Linked DNA regions of Homo sapiens. The protein of the gene in region 2 binds, or shares a complex with, the protein of the main gene of each other region. Each region holds a gene or a part of one and is shown on either strand. Other genes may lie near its edges.

Evidence for each region.
Region 1: MED1 (region 2) and CCNC share a complex: the UniProt entries of both Homo sapiens proteins name them as parts of the mediator complex.
Region 3: MED1 (region 2) and MED20 share a complex: the UniProt entries of both Homo sapiens proteins name them as parts of the mediator complex.
Region 4: MED1 (region 2) and MED19 share a complex: the UniProt entries of both Homo sapiens proteins name them as parts of the mediator complex.

What each region holds. Positions count from the first base shown.
Region 1 is NC_000006.12:99,558,439-99,566,411, forward strand, and holds part of CCNC (cyclin-C), read right to left. Parts: intron 4,511-7,973; coding exon 4,404-4,510; intron 3,244-4,403; coding exon 3,159-3,243; intron 2,999-3,158; coding exon 2,929-2,998; intron 111-2,928; coding exon 59-110; intron 1-58. UniProt on the Homo sapiens protein: Component of the Mediator complex, a coactivator involved in regulated gene transcription of nearly all RNA polymerase II-dependent genes.
Region 2 is NC_000017.11:39,440,608-39,448,580, forward strand, and holds part of MED1 (mediator of RNA polymerase II transcription subunit 1), read right to left. Parts: intron 7,298-7,973; coding exon 7,191-7,297; intron 3,022-7,190; coding exon 2,943-3,021; intron 71-2,942; coding exon 16-70; intron 1-15. UniProt on the Homo sapiens protein: Component of the Mediator complex, a coactivator involved in the regulated transcription of nearly all RNA polymerase II-dependent genes.
Region 3 is NC_000006.12:41,904,426-41,911,684, forward strand, and holds the end of MED20 (mediator of RNA polymerase II transcription subunit 20), read right to left. Parts: intron 5,098-7,259; coding exon 4,844-5,097; intron 4,441-4,843; coding exon of another isoform or gene 4,419-4,440; exon of another isoform or gene 4,334-4,418; intron 2,863-4,333; coding exon 2,647-2,862; 3' UTR 929-2,646; downstream 1-928. UniProt on the Homo sapiens protein: Component of the Mediator complex, a coactivator involved in the regulated transcription of nearly all RNA polymerase II-dependent genes.
Region 4 is NC_000011.10:57,703,006-57,709,984, forward strand, and holds the end of MED19 (mediator of RNA polymerase II transcription subunit 19), read right to left. Parts: intron 2,225-6,979; coding exon 1,968-2,224; intron 1,811-1,967; coding exon 1,714-1,810; intron 1,631-1,713; coding exon of another isoform or gene 1,617-1,630; exon of another isoform or gene 1,392-1,616; coding exon 1,297-1,391; exon of another isoform or gene 1,102-1,296; coding exon 1,033-1,101; 3' UTR 705-1,032; downstream 1-704. UniProt on the Homo sapiens protein: Component of the Mediator complex, a coactivator involved in the regulated transcription of nearly all RNA polymerase II-dependent genes.

The DNA.
Region 1 (7,973 bases), on a different chromosome or scaffold from region 2:
TACTCTGGAGCTTTCTTTAGAATTACATCCTTAAAGCAGATATACTTTTTGCACTTACATACAGAAGTAGCAGCAGCAATCAATCTTGTATTTGAAACTACTCCAAATTCCTAAAGAAAGAAAAGCAGGTACATGTTAACCCAATGAATCTAAGGGTATCTGAACTCTATTCAAAACAGGATTTCCTTGCTCCTGTTTACAATCTGTTCACCTTCTAACTACTTGAGGTGTGAAGTACTTACACTCCTAAATGTACAGGCTGATTACCCCTTATCTGACATGCTTAGGATCAGAGATTTTTCTGATTTAGGAATATTTTGCATTACACTGGTTGAGCATCCCTAATCTAAAAATCTGAAATGCAAAATGTTCCAATGAGCATTCCTTTGAATGTCATGTTGGCCCTCAAAACGTTTCAAATTTTGGAGCATTTAGGATTTTCAGATTACGGATATTCTGCCTGTATTACCTCTCCCCCAAATTGCTACAACTTAAGACATATTTTAAAATAATTTTATAATTTAATAACAATAAAAGGTACCAAATTAGAAACCAAGCCTTAAGGTTACAGTGTCAGTTTTTCCATTTAAATTAGTTTCCAAGAAGATTGTTTACATTCTATACTTAATTGCAAGAATATTAAGTATGTTTCCTATTCAATTCAACCTGTATTAACAGATACTTCATGCCATTCTATGGTAAAACAGTTGAATTTGTGAATAAGATAAACCTTAATTAATCACCAAAAGAACTAAAAAAAAAAAAAAACCATATAAATAGTTACTATCCTTTTTAGAACAGGGAGACAGGAATTACGTAAGACTTCCAAAGTCAGTTCCCATTTCCTCTTTCAACTGAACAACCACCATTGTGAAAATACTAAAATTTATTATGATCCACCTTATATATACTGTTTCATTTATTGCCTCGTAAGATTTCTAAAGCCTTCACTTCATTTTAAAATAAAAAAATCAAGAGTTGGTTTCTTATCCAACAAAAGGAGCTAAACTAAAAATCTATTTAAATACCTTCAGCCTACATCCTTATCCTGTGTAGGGGAAATGTATGTGTACTAATATATTTGTTTTACATTTAAACCTCCAACTATAATAACTGAAAAGAAAAAGTAAAAGCCTGAGACATGTTCTTAAATGAGCTTTCCATACAATTTCCATAAAACTAGAGAAAATACAGAAAGATTTGGTCACAGAGATAAAAAAAAAATAATAATAATGCTACGACCAAATCTGAAAGACTACATTCTCTTTCTCAGGAATAATTCTTTTTTTTTTTTTTTTTGAGATGCAATCTTGCTCTGTCACCCAGGCTGGAGTACAGTGGCATAGTCTTGGCTCACTGCAACCTCCACCTCATGGGTTCAAGCAATTCTCATGCTTCGGCCTCCCTAGTAGCTGGGATTACAGGCATCTGCCACCACATCCGGCTAATTTTTGTATTTTTAGTAGAGACGGGGTTTTGCCATGTTGGTTAGGCTGGTCTCAAACTCCTGACCTCAGGTGATCCACCCGCCTGAGCCTCCCAAAGTGCTGGGATTACAGGTGTGAGCCACTACACCCGGCCTAGGAATAATTCTTTATCCAAAACTCAAAGGGAAAACTTTCATTCAGTAAATCACATCACAGAGTTCTACTCAGTAAATCACATAACAATATTTAACAAGTAAGATAGATTAAAATCCTCAAATTAATCTACAAGATTAAATGTTTATAAAGATTTTTTGTCTTGGTCCTCCATACTGCCTGTGCTTAAGAGACTTTAAATTATTACATGGTAATATTTAAATAAAATCAAATATTACATAGAATTATTAGAATTAGAAAACTCAATCCATAATAAGGACCTTAACTGATTCTGCCTTCTTAAACTACCACTCACAATTAGAAAACATAAACTTCTAGAAAGCTTGTCTTAATATTATTTCTAACAGAGTCAATTGTCATTATTTAGGTAACAGTTGGGAAAGATGTCATGGATAACCTTAAATCATGGCTAAAACAAAACTAAATCAAAGTGGGTGCCAAAAGGAATGTAAACTTACTAGGTAAAAATCACATTCAATATTCAAGAATACAACTCTAAGAATAGAACTCTAAGACATTATCCAAAAATAGAAACATAATGCAAAGATTTCACACCACCAAAGACTACATTATTTATGAAAAACAGCCAATATCTGCTATTATTTTCTGGACTTTAGCTGAGCTCTTTCAAAAATACTACAAAGGTAAAACAGTTGAACAGAAATTCAGTCTCTGCCGCAAGTTCCTATCTATCTTCTCTCCCTTACCTAATTTCTCTACGCTCACAACCTCAACTTTTACTTGTTAGACTCTATATAGCTATAGCTTCCCCTAATCCTTGCCTTCCTTCTGGCTTGGTAGGCAGCCAATCATCAGGATGATGGGAGGGAAGACAGGAGAAGATAAGCATATGGGTGAGAAGCATAAGGGACATTCTCAGGTTATGGTAGGCAAGCTGTGGTACTTACTGAATACTACTCAGTGCCAAACAATAGATGTCTCAAAGGCAGCAGAGGAAAGTAGTTAAGAACACAGGATTGGTAACGAGACTCCCATGGTTCAAACACGGGCTCTCACACTTACTAGCTATATCATCTTAAGCAAGTTCTTCATCTCTGTCTCAGTTTCCTCATTTATAAAATGGGAATACTACTACTATGTATTCCAGTTTGTTACAAAGATTAAGTCAGTTGGTACACAGTAAGTGCTGTATGTGTCTGTTAAGTGAATATATAAGGATATGTATATATTTCTTTGATTTTGTACAATTTTAGTATTTTGCATAAATTACCATTTATTAATTTTACATAGGCCATGTGAAAACTGGGGCAGATTAACCAACATACATTGACTACACTTTGATGAAGAACAGAAAATTGTTTTATACCTCTACTTTGGATGCCAAAAACACACATGTAGGAGCCATTAATACAGGATCTATACTTTTCAGAGAATACCTAAAATATGATAAAACAAAGTTAAATATCATTCATACAGAAAACACACTGGGAAAAAAATCAAGATAACTCTATGGTAGACACATGATTCATTTACACTGTGCTAAGGTTCATCAACATTAGATAAGAGTTCAAATAAATAAAATAAAAACAATCCTACCTGGCATAGAATCTCTTGAAATATACCGTAGCAGTGGCAATAACTTGTTGTCTTAATTTAAGATGTTCACCTAATGCTTGGATAACTAAAAGGCAAATAATGAAATTTTAAATGTATCTTCTGGTATCATTATAATATTAACATTGAACAGTAACTTCCATGTGGTTAAATCATAATTATGTTCATTTTTAACAAAGGAAAAAACCTACACATGCTCTATGTGAGTCACAGTGGTCTAATTCTAGGATTTGCAAATGTGTTAAGAAATATATAGGTATGCATAAACAACAACAAAACAACAACAAAACAGAAATTGCCCCACAGGAAAAAATTATTCATCCATTAAGGAAGTTGAATAAATATTTCCCCTCTATCTTCTAAATATTTTTAATGCTTTTCATAGTATCTTTATAATAAATATAAAAAGAAAATATTAGACACCTATGAAACTTGTTAATACTACCACTTTTTTTGTTGTTTTGAGACAGAGTCTCGTTCTGTCGCCCAGGCTGGAATGCAGTAGCACGATCTTGGCTCACTGTAATCTCCACCTCCCAGGTTCAAGTGATTCTTGTGCCTCACCACGCCCAGCTAATTTTTGTATTTTTAGTAGAGAGGGAATTTCACCATGTTGGCCAGGCTCATCTCAAATTCCTGGCCTCAAGTGATCTGCCCACCTCTGCCTCCCAAAGTGCTAAGATTACAGGTGTGAGCCACCACACTTAGCTTTATACAGCTCACCAAAATAAATAAATAATACATAAAAATCCATAACGAATCCTCAAAAAAAAGATAAGTTTACAAAATAGTGAACCGAAAGTTAAAAAAATTATGTGACAAACCTACTACATGTCAGAGTAAAGATCTATCCCTACATCTTCTTCCCTTCAAAGCAAAGTTCTAAGAGAAACGACCACTATAGGATGTCAATCCAAAGAATCATTTATCCTCAAAGTACTTTGCTTTAGCCAACCTTGAACTGGGTCTAATAATTATTATAAAGTCTTAGGGAGATTAGGTAACACTTTCAAATTGTCTTGAGTGCCTGTGATATGTAAAATTCACACAAAAAAACTTTATTTGGATCACTAAAAAGAAAGATAAATGAATATGTTGTAAAAAGAATACCTGTATAAGCAAAAATGTTAGGTATGCACTAAAACAGTTCACAAATTACCACACAAAAACATTTTTATTCAGAGGTAACCAACTATACAATTTGAACCAATTTTTAAAAAAGTTTACCATTTGTAAAAAATATTTGTAACTTCCAATATTCTTCCTCTGAGAGAAACTTTAAATCCTTTTGGCGCTCCTTCAACAGATCTTGTTTATCCAAAATCCATTGCAAACTAGAAAAGACATGTTACAGAAAATCAACAAGCAAGGTCAGAGGAAACACTCTAAGATTGAACACATTGTTCATATTCTGAGAAGTACAAAGTGCAAAAAGTAACCTTAAAGACAATTATTTCTCACATTTCTTGAAACGTGACTAATAAGAATTATCTCACTAATAAATGTAAATACGTCCTGAAAAAATTCTGCTCTAATCTTTTCCTTCTTCCTCCTTAGTCTGTTACTAGCTTGTATTTCATTGATTCTGGCTCTGATATCAAGATATGTCTTACAATCTGTGATGCCTTCGTGTTTTAATTGGCAGCATGTTTATTCTTTCTTAGTGATATAAGATAATGGTGGAATTATTTGGCACCAATTGATGGTGGCTTAGATTTGAGGAAGTATATAGTTTTCCAGCTGTTCATGGGTAACTATGGCATTTAATTTCCTTACTTCACAAATCTAATTATATTAAAAACTGCCTCAGAATGTGTTACACTGATAGCCTCCTCCTCTTGCCTAGTCAAGTGTGCTATTTTTAACCAGATATGAAATTGACATGACTCAAAGAAAAAACTATCTTGAACCTGTGTTTGTCATTCAATATGTATTTGAAGTCTTATGTCAATGAACTTGTTATTCAGCATTCTTTTATACAGCTTTATGGATGGATCATTATTTAGCCAATCTCTACTGATGGAAATACAGGTCGTCATTTTTCACCCATATTTTCTGATACCCTTAAGGGCTTTTTTCCTTCAATTTATGATCCATCTGGAATTTATTTTGGTACAAAGTAGGGATCCAGCTAAAATTTTGTCAAATGCTTATCCAAATGCATGGAGGTATTTCCTAATTTATAATTCTATCATTATACTTGGATCTTCTTTATAATTTCCTATTTTTTTCTTGTTCACATGCTGTGCTATTTTAGACACAGAAAATTAAGTAATTAATAGCTGGTATAAAAAAAAACTCTCTTCCTACTATTTTCCTGAATGATATTCTTCTTAATGAATATCTTTGTAATTCTCCTTGCATATTTGATTAATAATATATTTGAAATAACTTCCCAGAAGTAGGATTAATGGGTTAGTGTTGCTGGTAACTTATTGATACACATTGTCAGTTTACCCTCCAAAAACATTATACCAATTTCCATTTGTATTAACAGTTCATGAGTGAATCTTATAATATTTAATCCTGGCCGGGCGCGGTGGCTCATGCCTGTAATTTTAGCACTCTGGGAGGCCGAGGTGGGTGGATCACCTGAGGTCAGGAGTTTGAGACCAGCCTGACCAATATGGTGAAACTCCATCTCTACTAAAATTACAAAAATTAGCTGGACGTGGTGGCGTGCGCCTGTAGTCCCAGCTACCTGGGAGGCGGAGACAGGAGAACTGCTTGAACCCGGGAGGTGGAAGTTGCACTGAGTTGAGATCATACCACTGCACTCCAGCCTGGGGTACAGAGTGAGACTCTGTCAAAAAAAAAAAAAAAAAAAAAATTCCTATGGGTTACTGCCACTTTTAAATACTTTGTAACTTAAAGGCAAAGTAGTATGTCACTGTTTCTTTTCCCTGTAGTTTACTTTTGAGGTTAAACATCTTTCCATGTCTTTATTGGTCAAATACAGTTCTTCTTTTGTACAATGTTAATTCTAATATGACCATTTTTCTAATGGGATTACCGATTTTTTTAATGATTAAGAGATTCTTCTGATCTAAAATTTGTATAGTATAAATAATAAATCATTTGTTTGTCAAATAAGTGCAAAATTTCTCCCAAGTTTAAATATCTCTCAGTATTTATTTGTAATACAGAAATCTGAATCACTTACTTAAATCTACCTTTTACTTTCATGTTTGTCAGGCATAGCAAGGCCTTTCCTGATTCAAAACGATAAAAAACAATTCACCCATATTTTCTAATACCCTTAAGAGCTTTTTTCCTTCAATTTATGATCCATCTGGAATTTATTTTGGTACAGAGTATAAAGCAGGGATCCAGCTAAATATGTTGTCAAATGCTTATCCAAATGTGCTAAGGTATTTCCTGATTTATAATTCTATCATTATACTTGGATCTTCTTTATAATTTCCTATTTTTTTCTTCTTCATATGCTGTGCTACTTTAAAACATAGAAAATTAAGTAATTAATAGGTGATATGAAAAATACTCCCTTCTATTCTTCTGAAAATTTCTGACTATTCTATCACAATTATTCTAAGACCTAAACTTTAGAAGCATTATGTCGAGTCCTAAAAAAGAATATCCATTCAAATTTTGTGATTACATTACATTTAAAGATCAATATGGGGAGAAATGACATCTTACCAAGAATTCAAACTCTATTAAAATCTGTATGTGCCACTATGGACTTTTAAAGTTTTCTTCCTACAGGTTCTGTATATTTCTTTATATTTTTCCCTCTGTATATTTTCTGTTGCTAATGTAAATTATACTTCTCTATCCATTTTTAAAAAGCTTTTATTTTTGCATTTTATAACTGGTCACCTTCCTAAACCTTTATTATTTCTAATAACTTCTCAATTAACTGAGTTTTCTCATTAATTTTATTTCCACGTATTGATAATTTTGTCCCTGTTTTGTCATTCTTTCTATATCTCCTTTGTATCAACTGTATTGACTAGCATATTGGTAAAATCTTAAATAGGCACCCTAATTATCTCAATGTTTCACCACTGCTGATGCTTTATGTTTTTCATGTTAAGGAAGCATCCTATTTCTGTTTTAGTAAGAGCTTTAGTCAAGGATAAATGTTGAATTGTATTAGTTTTTTAATACCTTTACTGCTTGATTTCTTAATATTGACTATATTTCTATAATAAAATCCAATGTCATGTTTTATACTTTCAATGTAATGTTAGACTGCATTTGGTAATAATTCATTTACAATGTTTGCATTAATATTCAAAAGTGAGACTGTTTTTAGTGTTCCCTTTGCTAGATTTTTCTGTGTTATCATGGCTTCATAAAGAGAATTAGAAAGCTTTTCTTCTTTCTGTATGAAATGGAACAATTTCAAAAGGAGATTCTCTTGAAAGATGGAAAGTATTTACCCATGAAATAACACATAGCTCTTGGGTAATACTCTTAACTTGCTTTGGCTTTCAAATTTAAAACCCTGGAGATAACCCAAAAGTACCCCTGGGTTTACTTTTCTCATTCCTAATTTTGTATTTTTGTATCATTCCTTTTTCCCCTGATTTAACTAGCAGTAGTTTGGTCTACTGTTTTTATTTACTCTAAGAATTAGCTTTTATAATTTTTTTCCTTTTAATATATTAGCATCGTTATCTATTTTAAGTCTTTCTGTTTCTTTAGGTTTATTTCATGTTTCCTTCTTAATATTATTAAATAGAATATTTCTATTATCTCTCAATTATTCAGGATATTGATTTTCTAATACATTCAAGCTTTGGTTACATTCCATATATGGTACTATTATGA
Region 2 (7,973 bases):
AGAAAGACTACTTACCCATTCTGTCTTGCTATGGACTCCAAACGATCAGTCATTGCTGGTAAAGATGTTACTATAAAAGGATGAAAAAAGGAGTCACAAAGAATGCTCCAAATGACTTAAATGATATTCTTTTAAGACAGAAAGATTCATCCTTCCAAAACCGTAAACATATTCAGTAGTTCAAATGCTTGTAATTTACATAAAGTTCACTGATTAGGGTTAGCTGTGGCCTATGCAGTACTAAAGGTCAAAAAAAAAAGATCTATTTGAAAAATTACCGAACCTTTCTCCTCTCCTGTTTTCATTACTCCTTATGTGGGACAAACTGCCTTTAACTTAAGACACATTTATCTGCTAATGATAGAATAAGGAAGATTAACATTAAAACTAACATTAAAAAAAACTCAACATTAACAACACCATTAATCACAACAGTCAAAAGGTTAAAACAATCCAAGTGTCCACTAGCAGATGAATGGATAAATGAAATGTATATACATAAAGAGGAGTATTTTTCAACCTTAAAAAAGAAAGAAATTCTAATAAATGCTTCAAAATAGATGAACCTTGAAGACATTACGTTTAGTGAAATAAGCCAGTCACAAAAGGACAAATATATGATTCCACTTATATCAGGTATACAGAGTAGTCAAATTCATAAAGACAGGAAGCAGAATGGTGGCTGCCAGGGACTGGGGGAAGGCGGGAATGGGACATTACAGAATGTAAGCTTGGGAAGATGAGTGAAGTTTTACAGATGGACAGTGGTGATGATTATACAATAATATGAATGTACTTAACGCTACTGAACTATACACTTAGAAACAAAGAAAATGGTAAATTTTGTTACCTATATTTTACCACAATTAAAACAGAAAAAAAGGCCTCGTGCGGTGGCTGACGCCTGTAATCCTAACACTTTCGGAGACCGAGGCATGCGGATCACAAGGTCAGGGGTTCAAGACCAGCCTGACCAACGTGGTGAAACCCTGTCTCTAATAAAAATACAAAAATTAGCCAGGTGTGGTGGTGCGCGCCTATAATCCCACCCTCTCGGGAGGCTGAGGCAAGAGAATCTCTTGAACCCGGTGGGGGCGCAGTGGTTGCAGTGAGCAGAGATCGTGCCACTGCACTCCAGCCTGGGTGACACAGCGACACTCTGTCTCAAAGAAAAAGAAAACAAAAAAAGGTAAAGAAGATAATACTCAGCTGAGACTGGGCAAAGTGGCTCACGCCTGTAATCCCAACACTTTGGGAGGCCAAGGCAGGCAGATCACCTGAGGTCAGGAGTCCAAGACCACCCTGGCCAACATGGTGAAACCCCATCTCTACTAAAAATCCAAAAATTAGCTGAGCATGGTAATGGGCGCCTGTAATCCCAGTTACTCAGGAGGCTGAGGCAGAACAATCACTTGAATCCGGGAAACGGAGGTTGCAGTGAGCAGAGATCGTGCCACTGCACTCCAGCCTGGACGACAGAGTGAGACACTGTCTCCAGAAAAAAAAAAAAAAACCCTCAGCTGAATTAGGTTCATTTCTGGTGGATCACAGTAAAATCTGTTTTTACTTTCATTATTCCCCAAAAATAGAATTAGTCATTATAAGCATGAATAATCAAGCTCATGACTTATATTTTACATTTGCTTTCCTGGAAATTTGCTCCATAAACACCGTAAAAATCTTTTTAGAGTTAAAATGTCCATCTTCTGGACAGGCATGGTAGCTCACGCCTGTAATCCCAGCAATTTGGGAGGCCGAGGCGGGTGGATCACGAGGTCAGGAGATCTATACTATCCTGGCTAACACGGTGAAACCCCATCTCTACTAAAAATACAAAACATTAGCCAGGCGTGGTGGGACGCGCCTGTAGTCCCAGCTGCTTGGGAGGCTGAGCCAGGAGAATCGCTTGAACCCAGGAGGTGGAGGTTGCAGTGAGCCAAGATTGTGCCACTGCACTCCAGCCTGGGTGACAGAGTGAGACACCGTCTCGGAAAAAAAAAAAAAAAAAAAAAAACTTCGCGAGTTGCTGTGGCTCGCGCCTGTGATCCCAGAACTTTGGGAGGCCAAGGTGGGCAGATCACCTGAGGTCAAGAGATCGAGACCAGCCTGACCAACATGGAAAACCCTGTCTCTACTAAAAATATAAAATTACCCGGGCATGGTGGCACATGCCTGTAATCCCAGCTACTTGGGAGGCTGAGGCAGGAGAATCGCTTGAACCCAGGAGGCAGAGGTTGTGGTGAGCCGAGATTCCACCACTGCACTCCAGCCAGAGCAACAAGAGTGAAACTCCATCTCAAAAAAAAAAAAAAAAAAAAAAAAAGTCCATCTTCTTATCGAGATTAATCAGAAATAAATGTGAAGGGAAAAAAAACTTTTCCCAGGTATCTTTTTTTTTTTTTTTTTTTTTTTTGAGACAAGTCTTGCCCTGTTGCCCAGGCTGGAGTGTAATGGCGTGATTTTGGCTCACTGCAACCTCCGCCTCCCCAGGTCACACTGTTCTCCTGCCTCAGCCTCCCGAGAAGCTGGGATTATAGGTGCCCGCCACCACGTCCAGCTAATTTTTGTATTTTTAGTAGAGACAGGGTTTCACCATGTTGGCCAGGCTGGTCTCAAACTCCTGACCTTGTGATCCGCCCACCTCAGCCTCCCAAAGTGCTGGGATTACAGGAGCGAGCCACCGCACCCAGCCTCCCCAGGTATCTTATATTACCCTTCATCATTTATCTTTTAAATCTCTATCAGCCTCCAAAACAGGATCAAAAATAAATGTTTCAAACTTTAGCAAAAAGATCATTCCAACTCCATAAATGAATGCAAGAGCAATATCTAATACATAAAGTTGACCTACCTCAATTTTTTACTTCTAGTTTAAGTATAAAATGGTCCTTCTTGAACTGGGGGTTTTGTGAAATCAGCATATTTCAAAAGTGTTCACAAACCTTTGAGAGCCTTCTGCAATGTCTCCAAACAGCTGACCAAATGTTGATGCCCTCCAGAACTCATCACAACCCTCTTCTCCTGTGTCAAGTGGGAAAACATTTGAGGTGAAAATTAACCAGGCCAACAGTGTTTTAGGTAAACATACACATTATCCTAGTAGTAATATTGCAGGACAGTCTATAGACTCAATATAGTCTATAGATTTTGTAGACTATATAGAGTAACACTGGTCTACAAGTGTTACTCTGTCCATCCATGCAAAATCCATATATATGAGTGTAGAAAAAGGTATTCCTCAGCCAGGCACGTGGCTCATGCCTGTAATTCTAGCACACTGAGAGGCCAAAGCTGAATAATCACTTGAGTCCAGGAGTTCGAGACCAGCCAAGGCAAGATAGAGAGATCCTGTTTCTATTTAGTCAAAAACAAAAAAGAAAACGTTGTATTTCCACATCTAAAACAAAAAAACCTTTAGAGAAATATTAGGAAGAATCAAAATGTAATACATGAGATCTGCCGCCTGTGGAAGTGACCACATGCTAAGATATAAACAGTTAAATAAGATGGCTCAGGAGATTTGGTAGTGTACAAATTTAACAAGGTGATTTGCATGTAATCTGAGAAACACAACCAAATTTTAAGAAAATGAGATTGACTCTAAAAAACAGAACATATAGGCTGGGTGCGGTGGCTCACACCTGTAATCCCAGCACTTTGGGAGGTCAAGGCGGGTGGATCACGAGGTCAAGAGACTGAGACCATCCTGGCCAAAATGGTGAAACCCCGTCTCTACTAAAAATACAAAAATTATCTGGGCGTGGTGGTGCACGCCTATAGTCCCAGCTACTCAGCAGGCTGAGGCAGGAGAATCACTTGAACCCAGGAGGCGGAGGTTGCAGTGAGCCGAGATCACACCACTGCACTCCAGCCTGGCGACAGAGAGAGACTCTGTCTCAAAAAAAAAAAGAAAAAGAAAAGAAACAGAACATGTAGTCCAGAAAAGGGACTTCCAAAGAACAAAAACTTAGCCTAGTTTGAGGCCGGTTGCAGTGGCTCACGCCTGTAATCCCAGCACTTTGGGAGGCCAAGGCGAGCAGATCATGAGGTCAGGAGTTCGAGACCAGCCTGGCCAACATAGTGAAACCCCATCTCTACTAAAAATACAAAAATTAGCCAGGTGTGGTGGTACGCGCCTGTAGTCCCAGCTACTCAGGAGGCTGAGGCAGGAGAATCGCTTGACCCGGGGATGCAGAGGTTGCAGTGAGCCAAGACCACACCATTGCACTCCAACCTTGGTGACAGAGTGAGACTCCATCTCAAACAAAACAAAACAAACAAACAAACAAAAAAAAACTTAGCCTAGTTTTCCTAACCCTATCCAGTGAAGAAGTTTCTCTCTGAAAAACATTCCAGTCCCTAAAAACGTGAACAGTTTTCTGGTATAAGGATAGTTTTCCAGGCTTTTCCATGTTGCAAATAAATCTATCTCACTGCTCTAATTCTCCCTTACAAAACAAAGTAATTTATTAATAATCTGAAATCTCTTGATTCTTGACAGGAGAAGAGGTGCTCTGGTCAATGAATACCAGTATTATGAAAACTGGAAAACTAAATGTTTTGTCATAAATTAATAAATAAGCATACAGTATGTCAGTTGTTGAAAACTCTTTTTTTTTTTTTGAGATGGAGTCTCGCTCCGATGCCCAGACTGGAGTGCAGTAGCATGATCTTGGCTCACTGCAACCTCCACCTCCCGGGTTCAAGCGGTTCTGCTGTCTCAGCCTCCCGAGTAGCTGGGACTACAGGCGCCTGCCACTATGCCCAGCTAATTTTGTCTTTTTAGTAGAGACAGGGTTTTACCTTGTTGGTCAGCCTGGTCTCGAACTCCTGACCTCAGGTGATCGACCCGCCTCAGCCTCCCAAAGTGCTGGGATTACAGATGTGAACCACCACGCCCAGCCATGAAAACTCTATAAAATCTTGATGTACCAATAAAATTAGGTTTCTGAATCTGCAAAACTGAAAAGTAGACAAGCAAAGTCATGGTGACCAAACCAAGAGAGTGGTACCCAAAGAGAGGGCCTTATTAGCCACCTGGAATCCTTCTATCTCACAATGTCTCTCTAATGACAGTATCATTTACAGAACATATTTCAAGCTAGAATTTGGTTGCCTTAAGGAATAAAAATGACAACCTGGGCCAGGCACAGGGGCTCACACCCGTAATCACAGCACTTTGGGAGGCTGAGGCAGGTGGATCACAAGGTCAGGAGTTCAAGACCAGCCTGGCTAACATGGTGAAACCCCATCTCTACTAAAAATACAAAAATTAACTGGGCATGGTGGCGGATGCCTGTAATACCAGCTACTCAGGAGGCTGGGGCAGGAGAATCGCTTGAACCCAGGAGGCGGAGGATGCAGTGAGCCAAGATCCCACCACTGCACTCCAGCCTAGGTGACAGACAGAGATTCCATCTTTAAAAAAAAAAAAAAAAAATGAATCCGCCAGGCACGGTGGCTCACACTGTAATCCTAACACTTTGGGAGGCCAAAGTGGGTGGATCACTTGAGCCCACAAGTTTGAGACCAGCCTGAGCCACAGAGTAAAAACCTATTTCTGGCTAAGCGCAGTGGCTACGCCTGTAATCCCAGCACTTTGAGAGGCCGAGACGGGTGGATCACGAGGTCAGGAGATCGAGACCATCCTGGCTAACACGGTGAAACCCCGTCTCTACTAAAAATACAAAAAGTTAGCCGGGAATAGTGGCAGGGGCCTGTAGTCCCAGCTACTCGGGAGGCTGAGGCAGGAGAACGGCATGAACCCGGGAGGCAAAGCTTGCAGTGAGCCGAGATCGCACCACTGCACTCCAGCCTGGGTGACAAAGCGACACTCCATCTCAAAAAAAAAAAAAAAAAAACGATTTCTACAAAAAATATAAAAAACTAGCTGGGCAGCCGGGCACAGTGGCTCACGCCTGTAATCCCAGCACTTTGGGAGGCAGATCACGAGGTCAGGAGATGGAGACCATCCTGACCAACATGGTGAAACCCCATCTCTACTAAAATACAAAAAATTAGCCAGGCGTGGTGGCGTGTGCCTGTAGTCCCGGCTACTCGGGAGGCTGACGCAGGGGAATCTCTTGAACCTAAGAGGCAGAGGTTGCAGTGAGCCGAGATCGCACCATTGCACTCCAGCCTGGCCACAGAGCAAGACTCCATCTCAAAGAAAAAAAAAAAAAAACTAGCTGGACATGGTTACATGCACCTGTTGTTCCAGATACTAGGAGGCTGAGGTGGGAGAACCACCTGAGCCTGGGAAGTTGAAGCTGCAGTGAGCCATGATCGCGCCACTGCACTTGAGCCTGGATGATAAGACCTGGTCTCAAAAAAAAGAATGAATCAAAAATTCTACTAGTACAGGCTGGGCATACCTAATCTGAAAATCAAAAATCTGAAATGCTCCCAAATCCAAAACCTTTTTAGCATTCCCAATGATGCCACCAAGGATTTCACACCTGACCTCACATAACAGGGTCATAGTCAAAATGCAGTCAAAACGGCTGGACGCGGTGGCTCACGCCTGTAATCCCAGCACTTTGGGAGGCGAAGGCAGGTGGATCACCTGAGGTCTGGAGGTCAAGACCAGCCTGACCAACATGGAGAAACCCCGTCTCTACAAATAATATAAAAATTAGCTGGGCGTGGTGGCGCATGCCTGTAATCCCAGCTATTCGGGAGGCTGAGGCAGAAGAATCACTTGAACCTGGGAGGCAGAGGTTGCAGTGAGCCGAGATCGGGCTATTACAACCCAGCCTGGGCAACAAGAGTGAAACTCCGTCTCAATAAAAAAAAAAAACAAAAAAAAACTTAGTTTCACACACAAAAGTATTAAATATATTATTAAATATGTTGTATAAAATTACCTTCAGGCTATATCTATAAGGTGTTTATGAAACATAAATAAATTATGTGTTTAGACTTGGGTCCCATCCCCAAGATATCTCATTATATATTTGCAAATATTCCAAAATCCAAAACAATCCAAAATCTAAAACACTTCCGGTCCCAAGCATTTCATATAAGGGATATTCAACCTGTAGTATAGATACAATAGACTCCTAAAGTTGAAACCACCATGTATTCAGATGTTTTATGAAGATAGTATGAACACATCTACATGGGGAGCTTAGCGTATTAAGAATAATTATCTAAGCAAAACACTTTACCCACTTCACCACAATCCTTACCATGACTTGACGCACAAGCTTAATGGTTTCACTCCAGGGTCTATTTTGGTTAAATTTTGCATGGAGCCGTTCCAGGAGAGAACTCATCTTACTCAGCTTTTCTGACTCTATGATTTAAATCAGAAAACGTTATCAGTAACTGTTCTATCAAGACCATCCACAGTTTTCCTTGCAAAATAAATTCCCACACTTCATCACAGTAAGAATTCAGTTAAAATATTTTCCAAAATCATTTTACTTCAAAACATCCAAAGAAGACATTTTTAATGGCAAGATGACACACAAGTTATGGGTCTGATGTAAGGAATACCATACCACTGGACTGTTATCTATCCACCTTTTTTTTTTTTTTTTTAAAGACTAAGTTTCACTCTTGATGACCAGGCTGGAGTGTCAAACCCTGTCTCTACCGAAAATACAAAATTAGCCAGATGTGGTGGTGCATGCCTGTAATCCCAGCTACTTGGGAGGCTAAGGGAGGAGAATTGCTTGAATCCAGGAGGCAGAGGTTGCAGTGAGCCGAGATCACACTATTGCACTCCAGCATGGGCAACAGAGCGAAACACTGTCTCAAAAAAAAAAAGAAAGAAAAAAATTAGCCAAGCCTCCTGGCATGTGCCTGTAGTCAGTCCCCAGCTACTCTGGAGGCTGAGGCAGAAGGATCACCTCAGCCTGGGAGGTCGAAGCTTCAGTGATGAGCCTTGATCACACCACTTACTCCATCCTAGGCAACAGAGGGAGACATTGTGTCAAAAAAAAAAAAAAAAAAGTTATTGAACTGGG
Region 3 (7,259 bases), on a different chromosome or scaffold from region 2:
TAAATGTGAAGGAAAAGAACAAAACTGAAAAACGCTGGAAATTTAGGCCAAGACTGTGCCTAAAAGGCAAAGTGGGCCAGGCACAGTGGCTCACGCTTGTAATCCCAGTACTTTGGGAGACTGAGGCAGGTGGATCACGTGAGGTCAGGAGTTTGAGACCAGCCTGGCCAACATGACGAAACCCCATCTCTACTAAAAATACAAAAAATTAGCCGGGTGTGGTGGTGGGCGCCTCTAATCCCAGCTATTCGGGAGGCTGAGGCATGAGAATTGCTTGAATCCGGGAAGCGGAGTTCGCAGTGAGCCGAGATTGCGCCGCTGCGCTCCAGCCTAGGTAACAAGAATGAAACTCCATTGCAAAAAAATAAAATAAAATAAGGGTCAGGCATGGTGGCTCACGCCTGTAATCCCAGCACTTTGGGAGGCTGAAGCAGGTGGATCACCTGAGGTCAGGAGTTCGAGACCAGCCTGACCAACATGGAGAAAGCCCATCTCTACTAAAAGTACAAAATTAACTGCACATGCCTGTAATCCCAGCTACTCGGGAGGCTGAGGCAGGAGAATCGCTTGAACCCAGGAAGCGGAGGTTGTGGTGAGCCAAGATTGTACCATTGCACTCTAGCCTGGGCAACAAGAGCAAAACTCCATCTCAAAAGTAATAATAATAATAAAAAAACAAAATAAAAGCCAAGTGTAGTTAGGGATTTTATACTGCTTTTTAGCTTTTAGGGAACAGAGTCCCTCCTTATGATGCATAAGTCTAGAGAGTCTATATTTACCACGATCAACTTCTGGAGATTTTCAGGAAATGCATTGTGTTCAAAATGCTGCCTATGCATTGTTTCATTCCATAAAAGCTGCAGCCTACAGAAAAATACAAATAAATAAACCTGGACGAGAGCAAATGTAAATCAGGAGGCCAAAAAGGTAAGATCTGTGCGTTTTATTTTTGTAAACTATATCTAAAACATACCTCAATATAAAAAACCAGAAACAAAATAACAAAAACGGGGTGAGAACAAAAAATACAGATGACAGGTTCTGTAGTTATGGTACTGAACTGAGCTTCCTGTCAGCCAAAACTAGAAGGGAAACATGACCACCACCTGACTTGTTGCAGAGGCTTTAGATCTGAGCACTTGGATCTGAAAACAGTTTCTCTTTAGATGCCTTCAAATAAGGGACAGTATCCTTGATGACAATACAGTACATACATTCACAATTCTCCAAGACCATCTCTGTGTATATCAAGGTTAACCTGGATGAATATTTCTGCAGCAGGCATGGGGTAGGCAGGCAATATGACCAAATATGTAGTTTGGAGGCTCAAATGAAACAGGAGAAAGAGCTCAGGAACCATGAAGCATGGTGCAGGTATCAGGGTCAAGTATTCTAACCCTAAGATCAGGGTGCATGAGAACTGGAGAGGCCTCAATACTGAGACTTAGACGAAAGGTGTGGAATTAACTTCCTAGTGTGACTAATCCAACTTAGCTCAAAGCGGCTCTGAGATCAGCCCTTCTCTCAAGTCAACTCATAAACAAATGCTTTAGTTACAGGAGGTATTAACTGCAAAATAACAGCCAAAAGCATTCCTGGGCACGTCCATTGAGCTCCATGTAACAGAAGCCATTAACTGCATCTCAGCAACCAAATTGTCTTTCATCTTGTAGTCACAGAATCCCTGAGTTTTAACTCAGCACATGACTGCCCAGATAAGAGGTTCTATGTCCCAGCATCTCTTTCAGCAAAGTGTGGCCACAGTGATCTGAGCAATGCTCAGTCATATCTTTTTTTTAAAATCTGCTCTTTTCTCTCTCTCTTTCCCCAGTGGAATGCAGATATGGAGCTGATGAGTCTGCTTTGATCTTATGGGTAAGAAAACATACTGGGAATGGCTGAATAAGACAGAAGGAAACAAAGTTCCTGATAACCTTGTAGAGTTAAATCTGCCCTAGACCATCTGATTACCTCTCTATTATTAGGTGAGAAAAAAACAAACTTCGATCTTATAGCAGTTTGGCCTGTGGCTTAACATATTTCACAACAGAAGGGAAAGATGTCAGAAGGAGATTTCAAAGGACTCAGGCAACACCCTAGGAAAGTCAATTCGCAAATCACTTCAGCAAACAGGTCAGAAAATAGTAACTATCAAACCAGTTGTGCCTTCTACTCCATCTCTAGGATAGAAGCCCAGCCACATCCTCTGAGGGAAGGAAGAGGCTCTTATTACAGCACAATCCAAACATAAAATGCAGCATGTTCACCATTGGCCTGGGACAAATCCTTAATAGTTGGGGATACGGACTATTTCCCCCACCAGTACCAGGCAGGGACATTCCTGTCCTACCTTTCCCCTAAAGGAGGCAAGGTCCAAACTTCTCCACTCTTCATAATTACCATTCTTGAGGACAGGCCAAATCCAGTAAGGCACGGAGTAAAACAGCTGATGGGGGGCTATGTGTGAGAGTCAGGGGGTTGGGGAGGGGACTCAGCCCCAGAACAAAAGCCACAGCTGAGAACCAGAGAAGGAGAGTAGAGTCCATGTCTACCCTGGGTTTCTGGGGTCCAGGGACCTGAAAGTCAGCACCTGCTCCTCCTGTGGAGTACCCCTGGTGACAGAGCTCAGCTGGCAGCTGCTCATCACTAACGAATCCCAGCCACCGGCACCTGCTGCTGCTTGCGGATCTTGTTGAAGAGTTCCATGTACTGGACCATGGTATCTGCTGGGCCGTAGACCGCATCATGTCTGTTCCCAAACACTGCGGGAGCCCCTGGTGTGTGGCTGCCTAGAAAACTCTGTAGGAACTCGAGCAGCAGACTCCAGCAGTCACTAGCTACCACACAGGGGCCATACTCCACCTGGGAACCAAAAGCACAGAGAATGAGGGTGAATGAAGGCTAAGACAAGGTCTGCTTCTCTTGTACCTCCTGCCTCCTGCTCCCATCTTCCCCAACCCCGAGCTAAAGACACACACCTCCTAGCACAGTATTGGTCCACAGGAAACATTCAACCTAAACACTGGGCTCAATACCCAGCATCTTTAGGCATCTTTGACCTTCTCATCCTGGAGCTGTGCCAACCCGCAGCCCTCCCAGAGGACCCAGAAGCAGATCTGGGCCCCTTTTGATGATCTCAGGACTGTGTTGTCCCTGCTATGCTGGGTAAAGATTCAAGGAGAGCTCAAGAAAATTCTAAGAGACACAACAAAGAGAAAGAGAAGGAAAATGTGTGTGGGGGTGGTAAGTAGAGAGTAGAGTGGACACATATGCTCATGAGTTTTTTTCAAGACCAAATTTTACTCCCTAAGTAGAACCAACCTGGGTTCTGACCCTAAGAAAGAATTTCCCAAATAGTGTGTCATGGGCCAAAAAATATACATCTTAGGTTTTCTCCTTCTGCTCTCTTAATTTTTTACTGGAGAGATGGCAGGGCAAAATTACTGGCAACCCTAAGGAGAAATAAGTAAAGAAACAGGTGGAGTGTGTTTCTACTACAAGATTAGAAATGTGGAGGATAAACAGCGGGTCCTCAGTGGGTCTCAGCAAATCCAAGGTCTATCACAAGCCGAAAGGGTTAGAAGTCTTGGTCCTAGAGGTTGCTGAGCAGAAACTACCACTAATGCCCTTTTCTCCAACTGGGATTCTTCCTAGACTTATCTATCCCCATGTCTCTACATTTTAAATCCCTACATAAATGTTGATCCTCAGGAAGCATCACAACCAAAGTCAGCAGTGTTCACACTGGCCTGAATTCCCAGAGCCAACTGCCTCTTTTATAGCATTTTCAGACTAACTTCAAAAAGAGTTTGTGTGTTTCAGCCTCACTCTTAATAAATAAATCACAAATTTTCAAAGGGTAGACCTGCAAGCTTACTTGTTTTCTTATCTCAGTGCTGGGCACATTATAGGTTGTGAACTTTCCCTGGTCCCAAAGAAGCCAGCCACTGCTACACTGCCACTCTCACTCCTTGTCACTATATATGTGTATGTATACACAGACACACACACACTCTCTGTGTCACAGATGAAGTGATCTCACACACAAACACTCTTTCTACCATGAAAGAAAGCAGACAGCATGTCAAAAGGAAAAGCACATTTTTGCTTCCCAACCTATCTTAAAGCATACTAAGGAAAGGTATATGGGCATATGTGATTTAGGGCCCACCGCCAGAAAATTGTTCTAAGAGTTGTCCTGGTCTGCTCCAGAACTTCTTGTCATGGGTGACTGTCCCTCCATATCATAACTCACCTGCCTTCCTTGACTATCTTTTCCCTTCTCCAGCAAGCCACCCTTCCTAATGAAGCTTTCTGCTTGCTTTGAACCCAGCTTCCCGCTTCCTACTTGCCAGCTGTGTTAGAGAGTCTCTGAATAATTAAAGAAAGGATAAAAGATTCACGAAGAGGAAGCATAGATGCCTTGGAGTCAGGGATCAGGTAGGCATAAATATCTGTTTAAATTGAGGACTGGAGGCCAGGTGTGTTGGCTCATACCTGTAACCCCAGCACTTTGGGGGGCTGAGATGGGAGGATCAATTGAGCCCAGGAGTCTGAGATCAGCCTGGGCAACATAGTAAGACCTCATTTCTACTAAAAAAAAAAAAAAATTTAATTCGGTGGGTGTAGTCCCAGGTACTTGGGAGACTGAGGCGGAAGGATCACTTGAGCCCTGGAGGTCGAGGCTACAGTGTGCCAAGATTGTGCCATTGCATTCCAGCCTGGGTGACAGAACAAGACTCTGTCTCAAAAAAAAAAAAAGAGAAGAACTGGAAAATCTTCAGAGCCCTTTGCTAAGCAGCCCCCTCAGAACATCCTGCTCCTATTTTCACCAAGGTCTTACCTCCACAGAGATGCCCCGGGCACTGGGCCCCATTGTGACCGTGCCCACCTTCACCAGGAAGTCACAGTACTGGTACCTGGTGCCCCGGGTCTCAATCTTGCTGGCCTTAGCACTCTGGAAAAAGCCCTTGAGCTTCACCATAAGCACATCAAAGTTGGTGTCAGCAATAAGGCAAGGGCCATTCTCAAAGAGGGCGAAACAGCTCAATGGGTACTCTGAGTTGTGCATCACATACATCAGCTTCCCGGTCTGACCTGCAAGGGACAGAGATCCTATTCATCATCAAGACTTTCACTGGCAAACCCCAGAGTAGAGTCAAATGACTCCCCCCGGAATGAGGCCAGACAGCAATCTGGCACTACCTCAGCAGTTCTTGGTTGGGGGTGAGGGGAATCCTCTCACTGACAGCCTTTTCTAGAAAGGTAGGGGGAAATAGCAGGAGAGGCAGCATGTGGTAAAACCCACCCTGCTCTACAGAAAACAGTGAGGGGCACACAGGGAACTTTAATAGTGTTGATCATGTTTTAATTCTTAAGTTGAGTGGTGGGCTCACAGATGGTCTACATGTAAAGTCTAACTCCCACAGACTTTACGTATAATCTTTTGTATATTATCATATATTACATAAGTAAAATGAAAGTAACAGCATTTGGGCATGCCAAAGGAAGTAGCTGCTCCCTTCTTCTGCACACTCTTCCTCAGCTTAGCCTCCTCCCTCTTTGAGATCTAGTAAATGGTCCTATGGAAGCAGCAAAGGGGAGTGTCTGAGCATAAGCAGGGAAAGGTAGATGGGATCCAAGCTGTGATAGGTCTTATCTACCATGCCTCAAGAAGTTTAGACTGTATCCTGAAACCAATGGCAAACCGTTGGAGAATTTTTAGAAGTCTAGCCAACTTGGGAAGCAAGCAGCACACTACAGCAGAGAGACCTCAGGATCTGGATCAGAAGATCAACTTTCAAGCCCCAGCTCACCCCTTCCAGTCTCTAAAATATGAGTTTTCTCATTTATTTCCATAGGCTATTTGCAATAAAAATGGAAAGCTATACACATTTAGTTAAGTAGAAAACAAAAGAAGGCAGGGCTGGGCACAGTGGCTCCCACCCGTAATCCCAACACTTTGGGAGGCTGAGGCGGGTGGATCACTTGAGGTCAGGAGTTCCAGACCGGCCTGATCAACATGGTGAAAACATGTCTCTACTAAAAATACAAAAATTATCTGGGTGTGGCGGTGCACGCCTGTAATCCCAGCTACTGGGGAGGCTGAGGCACGAGAATCACCTGAACCCAGGAGGCAGAGGTTGCAGTGAGTTGAGAGCGTGTCACTGCACTCCAGTCTGGGCAACAGAGCAATACTCTATCTCCAAAAAAAAAAAAGAAAAAAAAAGGTAAAAACTGGAAAGCAAGATTCCTCTTTCATACGCTACAAGAATTAATGGATAGACTGCCACAATCCCACATGCTTATTACATATATAAGCCATTCCCAACACTTTTCTTAGGGCTTCAGAGATGTACAAGCAGAGGACTTAGCCCCTGACTTCAAGAAGCTGACAATCAGGCTGGGCACAGTGGCTCACACCTGTAATCCCAGCACTTTGGGAGGCCAAGGTGGGTGGATCACTTGAGGTCAGGAGTTCGAGACCAGCCTGGCCAACATGGTAAAACCTCGTGTCTACTAAAAACACAGAAATTAGCCAGGCATGGTGGCATGCGCCTGTAATCCCAGCTACTCGGGAGGCTGAGGCAGGAGAAGCGCTTGAACCCAAGAGGCAGAGGTTGCAGTGAGCCGAGATCGTGCCACTGCACTCCAGCCTGGGTGACAGCGAGACTCCATCTCAAAAAAAAAAAAAAGCTGACAATCTCATGAGAGAGATAGGCTAAAAACTTTTTTTTTTTTTTGAGACAGAGTCTCACTCTGTCGCCCAGGCTGTAGTGCAATGGTGCAATCTTGGCTCACTGCAACCTCCACCTCTTAGGTTCAAGTGATTCTCTTGCCTCAGCCTCCTGAGTAGCTGGGATTATAGGTGTGAGCCACCACACCTGGCTAATTTTTGTATTTTTAGTAGAGACGGGGTTTCACCATGTTGGCCAGGCTGGTCTTGAACTCCTGACCTCAGGTGATCTGCCCGCCTCAGCCTCCGAAAGGGCTGGGATTCCAGGCATGAGCCGCCACGCCCAGCTGAGATAGGCTAAAAACTTTTTGAAAGACCACAAAATAAAACAAGTTATTACCGAGGAAAGACCACAAGTCTTTCGGAAAAAGGAAAGACTTCAGGATAGGAAAAGATTAAAATGAACAAGTCAGCAGGAAAAAAAAGTAGGATTTGAACTGCAATATGAAGAGAAGGTAGGATCCAGCCACACAAAGGAAAGAAGACATTCTAGACGGGGGTAAGAGTGTGCAACTGAAAAGGG
Region 4 (6,979 bases), on a different chromosome or scaffold from region 2:
GCTGAATGAGTGGTTTTCCACCCACTGATTCAGGAACAACCTTGGCTTTCACGGCAACAGATTTTAACTGTGTTAAATTTAAAGTCAGATTACATTAATTCAGGTTTTCTCATGGATGTTTTCAGTTACCTAACCAGCTGGAAAAACTAAAAGTGTTTTTTGTTTTTGTTTTTCACATTTTGATGGTTTAGGCTACATTTTGTTGCTGTTTTAGAAATGTTTTCACATCAGCTAAATAACTTTATTGTCTTAACTAAGGACCGAAGCAGGTCAAAAGTTCTTGTAAAGAGAAGGGAAGCTTTACCTTTGCTTGCCAGAAGTTCATCTCAAAAGATCACAGGCTTCTGACCTAAAGAACCAATCTTGTTGAAACACATGGGTGACTGTCCATGTGTTTTCAGTTGGCTATTCTCTTTCGACACAAAATTGACCTAGAATACACTGTTGAGCCCTACCTGGATCAGCTCTTCAGATGGAGCCTGAGATCACCGAGGCGCTTGGTTCTCAACATAATGGGCAGAGTGTTACGTGTCTGCTGTGGAGTATTAGTAAGCTTGGGTCACTTTTCATTTTGGTTGGTTCCCTGCCTGCTAGTGAGATCATGTAATGACAAGACCCAAATCCCCTCAAGTCTTAGGAATGCCTTGTCTTAAATCCTGATTCACAGAAAGGCACATACCTCTTAACAGGCAGTCACACTTCAGCCAGTTTGATAAATGTAATTTTTTTTTTTTTAAAGAAAACACAGAACAAGTCCTAAATCAGACAAATTGCACAAAAGAGAGAGAAGAAAATTGTAAGCTTCCTGGGAGAGGAAGAGATGTCCATGAGAAAACCAACTGGGATGAGCCTACAAAAGCATGTCCCTCTCTCTCCTAATTTACTTAGTCTCAACTGAGCCCAACAGGAGCTGGCCTCTGTCCCAGCTGCAGGATGCTCCCAAGGCAGTGTCCAAGAGCCTGGAAGGCAGCTTTTATCAGCAGGTTCAGTACAGCAGGAAAAGCCATCCTGGCAAAGAGTCCAGTGGTCCTATTAGCGTAGGCTGCTGCTGCTGCTGGCCTGGGAGCTGCCCATACCTGGGTGGTCTGGACTATGTCGATTCTGGGGGAGAAAGAAGCAGGGTAAGAACAACTAGGAACTAGCCTTGGCTTTGATCAGGCTGTACAGGAGAAACCTGCAACCTGCCTTGGGTTTTCAATCTTGGGTCCAACTTGAGGCAAAGAACTCTAGGGTATTTAGGACAGGGGTGAGATCTGGGGAAACTCACTGGGTTGTGGCAATAGGCCTCTACTCTACCTTCTTTTTCTTCTTCTCTTTCTTCTTCCTTTTCCGTTCAGGATCCTCTTCTTTTTTCTTTTTCTTCTTCTTGTGATCTGAATCAGATGGTGTTTCTGTAGGAGACATTAGGTACCTATCACCTGTAAAGCTCAAAATCCTCTACTGTTATGAACCACTGAAGACTACAGGAAAATCCCAAGTCGGGGCAACTGCTTTTGTCCAAATGGCCAGAAAGGATACAGAGGTGCTGCTAGAGTCCCTGTCCCAAGTCCCAAGAGACCACAGTACATTGGTTTCTTCTTCAGGGGAATTTAGGAGTCCAGAGCTCCATACGGAACTTAACTGGGTTTACCTATGGAAGTTCAAACCAGATTCAGAAGGTCAGGTTTTTTTTTTTTTTTTTTTTTTTTTGCTTTGAATAGAACTGCTTCTTACCTGGGGGGACAGGATCCTGGGTACGGCTCTGTTTGTGCTTGTGCTTATTCTTCTTCTTGGGAGGCTGAATATGCATCAGACGACACTGCTCCGGCAACTGAAGGAACCAAAGGAAGGTCCAGGTGAGTAGAGGGAGGAAATCTCTCCTGCTCTTATCATCCATTCTGCTCCATTATGAAGGAACAGACTTGGAGAGAAAAACCATCTCCATGTTTAGGCCTCCCCATTTGCCTTCTTCCTCCAACAGGACTCACCGGGCCAGTGTGGAGGCGGAAGCCGGCCAGCATGGTCCCTGTGATAGGATTGAAAGAGCTACTGAGAATAGGGGGCTTCTCAATGAGAGAGCGGAGGCTGCTGTTATCATGGGAACCAGGCAGATCAATCATCCCTGGCAGGTCAGGCAGGAAGTTACTTAGCTTCTCCTTCACCTTCTTCCCACAGAATTTATTATAGGCTTGTTCCAAGTTGTAGTGTGTGATCAGATTCGTGCTGCCTGTCAGCTCTGTGCTACCTAGACAACGCAGAATAAAAATAAAAAAGATCAGTCTTCAAAGTAGACCCAGGGAGTGAAGGACTATATATTAACCTAAATAAGACATTTTTTAAGTGCAGATTTTAAAATTTAAAATTTATTTTTAAAGAAACAGAGCAGGCCGGATGCAGTGGCTCATGCCTGTAATCCCAGAACTTTGGGAGGCTGAGGCGGGTGGATCACCAGGTCAGGAGATCGAGACCATCCTGGCTAACAACACGGTGAAACTCCGTCTCTAGTAAAAATACAAAAAATTAGCCAGGCGTGGTAGCACGTGCCTGTAGTCCCAACTACTCAGGAGGCTGGGGCAGGACAATCACTTGAACCCGGGAGGTGGAGGTTGCAGTGAGCTGAGATTGCGCCACTGCACTCCAGCCTGGACAACAGCGAGACTCTGTCTCAAAAAAAAAAAAAAAAACAGCAAAAGTAAATAACATGAAAAGTATAATACAACACAATGGTAGGTTCCAATGGGAAGGGGAAAAACAGGCAAAAATCCAATAGGGCAGAGACAGGAACTGCTCTAGCCCAATGAAGGAGACACTCCACTCTCTTAAGATTAACTGGAGTTGATTTATATGATGCTTGCTTCGTGGTAAATGCTGTTCTGAGTGTTTCTCATAAAATGTATTAGTGAAAAATTATATTCTCTGACACAGCTAGGAAAATACGACCTTGCAGCTCAGCTACAACCATGCTCAGGGGGCCAAATATGACCCAGTGACTTAAGGGTCTTGTCAAGGACTTTTTTTTTTTTTTACTAGCAAGAAACACTAATCACCTTTACATAAGAAAAGAACTGGGAGATTTTTTTCTAGCTACCACTGCCTAACTTGTTACCAACATCTTTATTCTTCCTCGTGATACTGAGTATGATGCCTTGCCTAAAAGGAATAAATGTTTTTTGTTTTTGAGACGGGAGTTTTGCTCTGTCGCCTAGGCTGGAGTGCAGTGGGGTACGATCTTGGCTCACTGCAACCTCCGCCTCCTAGGTTCAAGTGATTCTCCCACCTCAGCCTCCCAAGTAGCTGGGATCACAGGCACACACCACCATGCCTGGCTAATTTTTTTCTAGTAGAGAAGGGGGTTCACCATGTTGAGTAGGCTGGTCTTGAACTTCTGACCTCAAGTGATCCGCCACCCCCCGCCGCCTCGGTTTTCCAAAGTGCCGGGATTACAGGTGTGAGCCACAGCACGCATCCAGGAAGAAATGTTTGATTAGAAGTCAGTCAACTAATGGCCAGGCGCGGTGGCTCACGCCTGTAATCCCAGCACTTCAGGAGGCCAAGGCGGGCAGCTCATTTGAGGTCAGGAGTTCAAGACCAGCCTGGCCAACATGGTGAAACCCTGTCTCTACTAAAAATACAAAAATTAGCTGGACAGTAGTGGCACACACCTGTAATCCCTGCGAGGCGGAGGTTGCAGTGAGCTGAGATCAGGCCACTGCACTCCAGTTTGGGTGAGAGAGTGAGACCCTGTCTCAAAAAAAACAAAACAAAACAAAACAACAAAAACAAAAAAACAAGTCAGGCAACTAGAATTATTCTGGCTGTCTTCCATGCCTCAGTTTCCTCTTATCTGTGGAATGGAATAATAGCTATCTTACATACACATAATTTTCTCCCAAGGTTCAAATGAAAATATGCTGAAAAGCATAAAGTATCAGGCTTGGCACAGTGGTTCATGCCTGTAATCCCAGCACTTTGGGAGGCCAAGGCAGGCAGATCACCTGAGGTCAGGAGTTTGAGACCAGCCTGGCCAATATGGTGAAACCCCATCTCTACTAAAAATACAAAAATTAGCTGGGTGTGGTGGCATGCGCCTGTAGTCACAGCTACTTGGGAGGCTGAGGCAGAAGAACTGCTTGAACCCGGGAGGTGGAAGTTGCAGTGAGCTGAGTTTGCACCACTGCACTCCAGCCTGGGTGGGAGAGTCAGATTCCATCTCAAAAAAAAAAAAAAAAAAGTATTATATGTATGCAAGGCACTATCCATATAAATATTGCATGGCTGATTCTTTTTTAAAAAATATACATTTATTAGTAACTTAATAAGGACCTACTAGCAAGGGTAGAAATAGCTAACTACAACTTCATTTGTAATTATGATAGACACAGAGGGTACAAATGACAAAAATGGCTTGTTTATAATCATTCACTTGGGAAAACTGAGGTACTGAACTGTAAGCTCCTTGGAGGCACAGACAATGTCTTGTTCATTCATGTATCGCTAGTGCCCAGCACAGTACACACATTAGGTGCTTAATAAATATTTATTAAATAAACAAGGCACTTTCCCTCTATACCTCTAGGCCTTATTCATCCTTTTCCTTCCCTTTACTACCAAACAACTCAGAAGACTGAGCGAGGGTAATGGCAGGAGACCCAATGTCACAGTATCTCTCCTCATAACTCTGGGCACTGCCTCTTGCCATTACAATCTTCTGAATTTCCCCTGCTCTGCCAACTCTCCTCTGTCCAGATGGTTATCCTTAAGGCTCAGGTGAGAAGGCAGTCTGTGCTTTTTCTAAACTGTAACTTGAGAGTTCAAATTCCAGTTTTGACTATTCTACAAAGATTACTTTTTATATTTATTTATTTTTTGAGACAGTCTCGCTCTGTCACCCAGGCTGGAGTGTAATGGCACAATCTTAGCTCACTGCAATCTCTGCATCCTGGGCTCAAACTACTTTCCTGCCTCAGCCTCCCAGGTAGCTGGGACTACATGCATACACTGCCATGCTAGGCTAATTTTTGTATTTTTTGTAGAGACAGGGGTCTCCCTATGTTGCCCAGGCTGGTCTTGAACTCCTGGACTCAAGCTATCTGCCTGCCTCAGCCTCCCAAAGTGCTAGGATTACAGGCGTGAACCACCCTGCCCAACAAGATAAAAAAAAAAAAAATTGTTTTGAAATTCCAAATCTTGCCAACATCACTCAGGGCTTCTCTATTTCAATCCATGGCACCCACATGTTCCAGATATTTTTGGAAATCAGTACTCCTCAGTTCACAAATCTTAATGGTTTCTTTTTGCCCTCAGGAGAAAGCTCAAATTCCTTTGACTGGCACTCAAGGCTAATTACATCTTACTCCAACTTAGCTTTGGGGCCTCATCAACCACTACTCTCCTATGCAAAATTTCTGATCCATCCAAATGGATCTCCTTATCGCCTCAAAAAAACACCCCTCACATTATTTCATCTTAGGAAAATTCTTCCTAATTTTTCTTCACCAATATGGATTATTCAAGGTCTAGCTCAAGTGACATCTTATTCTCACTGTCATTCTGGATAGCAACACACTTTGAAAACCATTAGGTAGTTCTTAATATTGATGGCTAAGATATTGTTAATTGCTGTTGTGAGGCATGAGCACAAAATGAGATGGAGGTGACAGGAAATATAGTCACTATCCTTAAACCACAAATTTTACATTCCTAACTAAACTCCTTGAAAAGCAATGACCAGCATTACTAATCTCTCTCTCCATCTCACCCGCCTCATACACCCAGCATTTGCCCAGAACATATATTCAATATCTGTCAACTGACTGATACAAATAGCTACAATCAGAATAGGGAAGGCAAAAGAAAGATTAAAAGAAACCGCTGGTGGACATCAACCACTAACTAATCAAAGGGATGTCAACTTCTCCATGTTTCAGTTTTTTCAATTATAAAATGTAGACAGTAATGCTACCTCAAAGGGCTATTCTAAGTATTAAATACTACTTATATTAAATACTGCATGTAAGTGTGTTGTGAACTTCAAAGTACTATACCAATATTTGTTGCTATTTCCCTCAAGTCATGATGTGGAAATAAGACTTGAGACAATGAAAGGCATCTGGGAGGCTGGGCGCAGTGGCTCACGCCTGTAATCCTGGCACTCTGGGAGGCCAAGGTGGGCGGATCACCTGAGGTTGGGAGTTTGAGATCTGCCTGACCAACAGGGAGAAACCCTGTCTCCACTAAAAATAAAAAATTAGCTGGGTGTGGTGGCACATGCCTGTAATCCGAACTACTCGGGAGGCTGAGGCAGGAGAATCGCTTGAACCTGGGAGGCGGAGGTTGTGGTGAGCTGAGATTGTGCCATTGCACTCCAGCCTGGGCAACAAGAGCAAAACTCTGTTTAAAAAAAAAAAAAAAAGAGGCATCTTGGAGACCAAACATGTCCAAAATAACTCTTGATTTCCACCTCTTCAAACTTGTTCCTTCCTCATCTTCCAAGTCTCCGTACCCATACACCCAATTATTCAAGCCGAAAACTTAAAAAGGCATCAATTCCTCTATTTCCTTCACTTCTATATACAATATATATTTTTAATTGAGACAGGGTCTTCCTCTATCATCCAAGCTGGAGTGCAGTGGCACAATCATGGCTCACTGCAGCCTCAACTTCCTGGGCTCAAGTGATTTCTACCACCTCATCTTCCTAGGTAGCTGAGACTACAGGTGCATGCTGCTATCCCTAGCTAATTTATTTTTATTTTTTGTAGAGATGGGGTCTCATTATGTTGCCCAGGCTGGTCTCAAACTTTTGGGCTCAAGCAATCCTCCCACCTCAGCCTCCCAAAGTGCTGGGATTACTGGCGTGAGCCACAGCGCCTGGCCCTGTATTCAATTTTTCAACCCTGTCAGCTCTACCTCTAACATCCTGTATCCATTTACTTCTCTATGCCCTGCTATGCTCTGGTTCAAACCATTATCTTTCCTGGACTACTGAGCAGTAACTTCT